Homo sapiens: one gene and its partner. The protein of the gene in region 2 interacts with the protein of the main gene of each other region in a pairwise test. Each region holds a gene or a part of one and is shown on either strand. Other genes may lie near its edges.

Region 1 (3,922 bases), about 53 Mb from region 2:
TTAACATGGTTTTAGGTTGTTTTTGTGTTTCCAACTGCATATATCTCATCATTCATGAGCTGCTCAATTAAGAAAGTCTGAGCCACCCCTAAAGATGGCAACATGAAATAAAGCCATCTTTGAAGCACCCAAAATCACAAACAGGGCCTTGCCCAAGGTTAAGTCATGATTCTGCAGGTAAACTATGCACTGCCACAGTATACGGGGACCCCAAACTGGCTGGTGTAAAAGTCATCCTTCTATAATAGAAATGGAGTCCCAATGCTCTAAATCCTATACAAATCACTTGGGGAATCTCTTTAAAATGAAGATTCTGATTTAGTAGGTCTGGAGTGCGGGCTGAGATTCTGCATTTGTAGAATGTGTTTAGTGAAATATTTTGATGCTACCATTCTAAAGACCAATGATAAATACACTGAAACTTTATTAAAAGGTCAGGGTATATAGAAAACAAAAGGCATGTTTGCAAAATTATTTATTTACATCTTAAGCTCACATTAAAATCTTTCTAGGATAGAATGGCTAAGATGAAATATACAAAGCTGATATAAACACAGAACTCATTAATCTTTATCTGAACAGAAACATAGAGATGGCTTTAGATAATCTGTTTTTCCTTCACAAACCAATGTTCCCTTAAGTCATGCCATGATAATGTCTCCCCATTAAGAACTTAACTTGTATTGCCCAAAAAAGCTGAGAAGCAAAAAGCTAACTTTGATTTGTTAAACAGCTATTCATATGCCACAAAACCAAAACTATTTTACAGTGCTGAGAGGTCCAGATAGGTCCAAACATGATGATTTTTAAATGAGTGCTTTGGTTAATTAGGCTTTGACTTGGTTTTTGGCATTACTTGTATAATTATATCATTCCAATGAGTCACTACAGGTAATCCATTCAAAACATGACTTGCTTAATACTATCACAAAGCACTTAGCCTTGCCTTGACTGGAAATACCTTTAAGATGCTGACAATAGCAACAATTTCTCCTTTCCTTCACTCAGCAAAAGAAATCACATAAATCACAAAATAAAAAATTCATTTCTCACATGTTAAAAAAGCAAAGTCTGCCATAAACCCTTAGAGAAGAAACAGTTTCTCATAATATCTGCCCTGGGTAATAGTGCATTATTAAAATACTAGACCTGCAAGATCTCTTCCTATGCCTTGGAAGCCTATGACTTCATGATCTATTCATGAAAAATATGCCGAAGGCTAAATATGCAATGCATTGAAATTTCTGGGAAGAATTCACATTTAAAACAGTTTAAAAAATCTGGATTTAGTAAGAGTTTTAGAAAAATAAATAAAACACTGTGGTTCTACTTCTCCCCTTCTACTCTCCCTTCACAAATCTAAGCTTAAGTGCAGGCTTCTAAAAAGCAGAAGAGAGTACAATAGGATGAGAGAGGTGGGTTTTACTATCCACATTTTCCTTTTCTTAGTGTAACGTATTATCTCAAAGGCAAACTTGATTCCCTTTTCTTGAAACGAAGATCCCATCTTCTGAGACGATCTTAAATAATTGTTCTTAAATCAAAAAGTTTGAAAATCAGTGCTTTTAATAAGCAACTAAATGCCTATAAAATATATAACTTAATATTTTGAAGAATGCTATTGTAAAGTTTGAAACAAGATCTAAACATTTTTAAGTTTACATTTAATGTCTTTAAAAGGTCTTTTAAAAGCTATAAGTTCTATTATAAATTGCCAACTAAATTATAAATTGCCACTCACCTTCTCAAAAATTGTTGCACAAATGCATACATTTAAGGTATCTGTATGGTATTTCTCATATTGATCTTTTTCCCAATCTCATAAGTGGGATAAAATGAGAAATTAAGCACCTAGATGTTGGTTAAATTCATTTGAGCAGCATTTTGATTTTGAATAGAGATTCTAAATGTAGTCTAAACTTTCCAGAAAGTCATATTTACATTCATTGTACATTTTATATACACATAAATACAAATTTATAGGAAATAAACAAATTAACCTACACCTCTCATACTGTAAAAGACAAAAATTAAAAATACAACAACCGTGATCACATGCTAAGGCCAGCTATCTGGGAAATATTATTGTTCAGTTCCAACAGCAATAACTTTGAGTAACTTGACACATATCACATAAATACACTACAGGTACTTAGTTTATTTTTGTCCTTAGCCTAGGCCAATCCACAGTTTTAAGTGAAACAATTTTCTGTGAAAGCTAATGCCATACAAGTAGTCAAACACTTACTAGAAATGTCTGCACCACAGAAGAAAGATCTAAAGAAGGCATAATAGCAGATGTCAAATATTTTGAAGTATAATTATAGGGAAGGATTAAAATTAACTCTTTATCCAGGGGGAACTCAGGGCTTTCTGACAAGAGCTGTGCAAAAATTCAAAGGTTTGCTTCATCAGTGTGAACTCCCAGTCCCACAAAAAACAGTGCCTTGTCAAGGCTCTTGTAGTGAGGCCTCCTGGGTTGACCGGTGAGACTCATAAGCCCCCAAGAAACCCTGAAGTTCCCTGATGGAAATTATTTTGTTGAGATTGAGTTTCTGACATGATGACTTCTTGGGCAGTTTGCTTTCTCTTGTGTTCCTGCCCATAAAGCAGTGCTTGATTTTGCTGTTCACCTTTTGTAAATAGATGGGCTTGGCCCTCCAGGAATATATCAAAGCGAACTTTTCGGATTATTGTCTCATGAAAACAAGCAGGTTGTTGTGATGAACTTGGAAAGTGCCCTGCACCTAGTAAGTCTTCCACCAACTGCTGGCGGAAGTGGCTAGCAGAGATTATAATTGGAAGAAAAAAAAGGTTACCGAATCTAAAATGTTGACTGTTCTATAAAGTTTTGATCTTGAGCATGAGTGGAAAGTCCTATTTGGCACTCCTTGACCTCAGGTGGCATGCCAATGATTATCACAGTAAGAAATTCTTAGAATCAGATTTGAGGTATAGAAGGAATAAGAAACACAGAAAATTTTGACCTATATTAAATAAACTCTTCTATAAGTCAGGTTTTTAACCCTAAAATCAAGGCCTTTTTTCCCCCAGAATATTAAATTTACTAAAAACGTAGAAATAAAAATTCTAGTATGGCTGTAAATATATAAGACAAATAAATGAGGTCACATGGTTTATACATTTCAAATTCTTAGAGAGGCCCTACAGTAGTTCAGGAAGACAGTTTACAGTATTGTTCCCTGAGTTCTTGAGGCAACCTCAAGTAAATTTATGAACTCTAAGATTTGAGAGACAGAAAACCTACATGGTCTGCTTATCCCTCTTTTCTAAGAGTAGCTATTTACTCCAAAGTGGTTTGTTCAGTGCTTTCCCTATAGTTCAACTGCTTTAATTATGTGGCTTTATCCGTTTCTTAGAAGACCAGCTCCCCAAATGAAACTTTTAAGAGAAAGAAGAAAAGGCTGTTTAAAGCAAGTAAGCTTTTAACATTAGTTAAGAGTGCAATTGAGTAAATCAGTTCTAAATCTATAATACAAGAAGAGTGGTAATACTGTCACAGGTGTTAGAAGGTTAGAATTCTACAGATTTGGGTTTGTCTGATGTCAGCGGTTAATAACCACTTAATAAGCCCTGCCTCCTAACCAATTATACTCTACTAATTGTCTACCAATTCAAAGAACCAAAACTATTATAATGACTTTCCAGTATTTAAATATGTAAGAACACCTAAATTTGGTTTTAAAATAAAGTTTATAACAACCATTCTCATCAGATCTCAAACTTCAAATATCTAGATTTTACACATAGATTTGTAATAATTAAAAAAAAAACCAAAACCACAAAAACTCATTCAAAACTGGTATTTTTTAGGTTCTTGAATTTTCATATGTCCACATTCTTGGTGGCTATTAAAATTTTAAAATAAATTCAAATCTTGGGAATAATTTAAGTAGTGAAA
Region 2 (3,822 bases):
ACCGCATCGGCCTTAATTTTTTTTTTTTTTTTCTTTTTTGAGACAGAGCTTTACTCTGTCATCTAGACTGGAGTGCGGTGGCATGATCTTGGCTCACTGCAACCTCCATCTCCTGGGTTTAAGCGATTCTCCTGCCTCAGCCTCCTGAGTAGCTGGGATTACAGGTATGTGCCACCATGCTTGGCTAATTTTTGTATTTTTAGTAGAGATAGGGTTTCACTATATTGGCCAGGCTGTCCTCCAACTCCTGACCTCAGGTGATCTGCCTGCCTCGGCCTCCCTAAGGGCTGGGATTACAGGCATGAGCCACTGCGCCCAGCCACATCTTTTAAATCAAAACATTTAGTTGGCCCCTAACCTAGAGGAGATGTGAGGGAGGATTTTGGTAAGCCTTTTGAAATAGCATGCTGTCAACTAAACTGTGTTCTCCCCAAATTCCTATGTTAAAGCCCTAACCCCCAGTGTAATGGTATTTAGAGATGAAACCTTTGGGAGGTGATCAGGATAAGATGAGCTCGAAAGTGTGGGGCCCTCATGATGGGATTAGTGCCCTCATAAAAAGAGACACCAGAGAGCTTACTCCCTCTCTCTCTGTACCATATGAGAACACAAAGAGATGGCAGCAGTCTGCAAGCCAGAAAGAAGGCCCTCCCCAGAACCGGACCCTGCTGGTACCCTGATCTCGGACTTCCAGAACTATGAGAAAATAAATGTTAAGCCATCCAGCCCGTGGTATTTGTTACAGTAGCCCAAGCAGATGAAGACAGAGGGGAAATGCAGGTTTGCTGGTGCTACGCAAAAAACTGTTTCAGTAGTCTTAGGATGGGGATTCGAACGAGACACACAAATGTGCACCTCTCTAGTATTCTGATTATGTACATGAACATGTCTGGCATCATACAGGTATTTAAAAAACGTTAGTTCCAAATGCAATGTGGAACACTGGACTAGGTCCTAGCACAGAAAAGAGATACTAGTGGAAGGCCTGGTGACATCCAACCAAGTCTGTGTTTCAGTTAACAGTAAAGTGTTGATGTTAATATCTTAGTTCTGACCACTGTTCTATGATTATGGACGATCAGGGGAGACTGGGTTATGGGCACATCAATTTTCTTCTCTAACTTTTCAACTTTTCAATCAATTTAAAATTATTCCATTGGAAACTTGAGAGGAGGGTAAAATTTTTAAAATTAAAAATAAGTAAAATAAAATAATTCCAAAATTTAGAAATTTTCTTTAAAAAGAAGTTAACTGAAGCCGGTCGTGGTGGCTCACGCCTGTAATCCCAGCACTTTGGGAGGCCGAGGCGGGGGGATGACCTGAGGTCAGGAGTGGCCAACATGGTGAAACCCCATCTCTACTTAAAATACAAAAATTAGCCAGTCGTGGCGGTACGCACCTGTAATCCCAGCTACTTGGAAGGCTGAGAAGGGAGAATCGCTTGAACCCAGGAGGTGGAGGCTGCAGTGAGCCAAGATCGCGCCATTGCACTCCAGCCTGGGGTACAAAAGCGAGACTTCGTCTCAAAAAAAAAGTAAAAAAAAAAATAAAAAGAAGTTAACTGGCTGGGCGCAGTGGCTCACACCTGTAATCCCAGCACTTTGGGAGGCCGAGGCAGGCAGATCACAAGGTCAGGAGATCAAGACCATCCTGGCTAACGCAATGAAACCCTATCTCTACTAAAAATACAAAAAATTGGCCAGGCGTGGTGGCACACACCTGTAGTCCCAGCTACTCGGGAGGCTGAGGCAGGAGAATCGCTGGAGCCCGGGAGGTGGAGGTTGCAGTGAGCCAAGATCGTGCCACTGCACTCCAGCCTGGGTGACAGAGTGAGACTCCATCTCAAAAAAAAAAAAAAAAAAAGTTAACTGAATCAGAAATAAATGTTGAATGAAAAATAACTGAGACTAGGATAAACATCCAAATAGAGCCAACAGAGAAAGAAGGCTGGGCATGGTGGCTCCCACCTGGAATACCAGCACTTTGGGAGGCTGAGGTGGGCAGATCACTTGAGGCCAGGAGTTCAAGACCAGCCTGGCCAAAACAGTGAAACCTCATCTCTACTAAAAAAAAAAAAAAAAAAAAAAAAAACTTAGCTGGGCATGGTGTCACACACCTGTAATCCCAGCTACTCCAGAGGCTGAGGCAGGAGAATCACATGAACCCGGGAGATGGAGGTTGCAGTAAGCCAAGATTGTGCCATTGCACTCCAGCCTGAGTGACAGAGCGAGACTCCTTGTAAAAAAAAGAAGAAGAAGAAAACCAAGATCGTTTCTTCCCCTGCAGATACAGAAAGATAAGCTGGCAAGGGAAGCCAAGGGGAGGATGAGAGAGGCGGCAAGAGAGCCAGGTGGTGTCCAGAGGGCCAGGGGAGTTTCAAAGAGAATGGCAATGCCAAGAGCACCCACCCTAAGGGGCAGAGAGGTTGCCCAGAGTCCAAATTCAGACGGCCAGATTGGACCACTGCTAGACCAGCAGCTGATGGCATGGAAGCCAAGCTACAGAGGGGCAAGGAAGCTCCAGAGCCTAAGCTGGGGCAGACCTCGGGACAGACCTCGGGGCAGACCTTGTTGAAGGTAATGGTGTCTCTCTGGATTGTGGCTTATATTTACAAAACATTTTTGCATGTTCTAATGTTCTAATATGTTCTAATATGAAAAGAATATGGCAAACAGAACCTCTATGACTTTCCCAGTGACTCCATTTTAAACATTAGCACCACATTTGCTACAGAGCCACTCACGGATGGGGAAATGTCGTCATCATATTTTTTTAGCTGATTCATAAACTCCAGATGCTTCTTCTCCTCCTCCAGTTGAGCCACAGACTGCTCACTCTTCTGCAGTTTCTGCTGCGTGTTGGCCAGTTCATCCCGTAGCCACTGATTCTCCTGGCACAGACGACGAACCTGCGCACGCAGTTTCTGCTTCTCGGACTCCACAGCATTCAGGTGATTTGACAAAGCCATCATAACCTGAGCAGACAGAAACGTGTGCAGCACTGTGGCACGTTGTCCAGCAAGAGTCCCTCCCACCCGTGCGAACATTCTGTGGCTGGGGCTGTAGCTTACACTCGCAGATATTTTCTCCAAAGTACATATAAGTACAATCTGCCATTTACTTCTCTTTTCCCCTTCAGCCACAGACTACAAAGCAGGGTATGATAAAGAATATCACACGCTCAGAATGCCTACAAAAAAATACTTATTTTTTTGAAGAGCATGCCAAATGAACTAGCAATGAAAACACAGCTACCCTTCTGATGAAACTGTATTATTTTACTTTCTATCAAGATGGGCCCAACATAATTTTTTATAGACCCTTTCCCATGTGTAAGACCTCGTGTACACACATGCATGTCTGCGCACAGAGTGCATGTTGGTGAAGGGCTGCAAGTGGGGGTCAGAGAACAGTGCACATACAAATCTTCCTTGATGTTCCAAGGTGAGAGAAGACATCTCTGTAGCTACCACCAAGAGTAAGAATGCACTGGTGCACTCATAAGCTTATGTTTATGTCATAAAATCCAGGGGCCACTCCAGGGCTCTGCCTACAGAGTGCTCACTGGTTTCTGGAACAGACCAGCGTGAGGCTGTGGCAAGTTCCTAGGAGCATAAGAGCACAAACAGCTAGGAGCTGGCTGGCAGCAATCTGTTCTCTCTTTAGAACATACATCTGCCCATCCCTCTCATAACATAATAACCAGGTTATTATCCTCCTAGGTTTAAAACCTGAAACTCCAGAAGGTGGGACCTTTTCTTCCTTCTTTTTTTAAAACTCTTATCTGCGACACCAAAAAAGCAAGTTTAAATTCATGTCACCT

The links.
Region 1: the proteins of KLC1 (region 2) and NIN interact in a two-hybrid assay, tested with the Homo sapiens proteins (one large-scale study listed by BioGRID).

What each region holds. Positions count from the first base shown.
Region 1 is NC_000014.9:50,719,359-50,723,280, forward strand, and holds the end of NIN (ninein), read right to left. Parts: 3' UTR 405-3,922; downstream 1-404. UniProt on the Homo sapiens protein: Centrosomal protein required in the positioning and anchorage of the microtubule minus-end in epithelial cells. May also act as a centrosome maturation factor.
Region 2 is NC_000014.9:103,656,698-103,660,519, reverse strand, and holds part of KLC1 (kinesin light chain 1), read right to left. Parts: intron 2,975-3,822; coding exon 2,744-2,974; intron 1-2,743. UniProt on the Homo sapiens protein: Kinesin is a microtubule-associated force-producing protein that may play a role in organelle transport. The light chain may function in coupling of cargo to the heavy chain or in the modulation of its ATPase activity.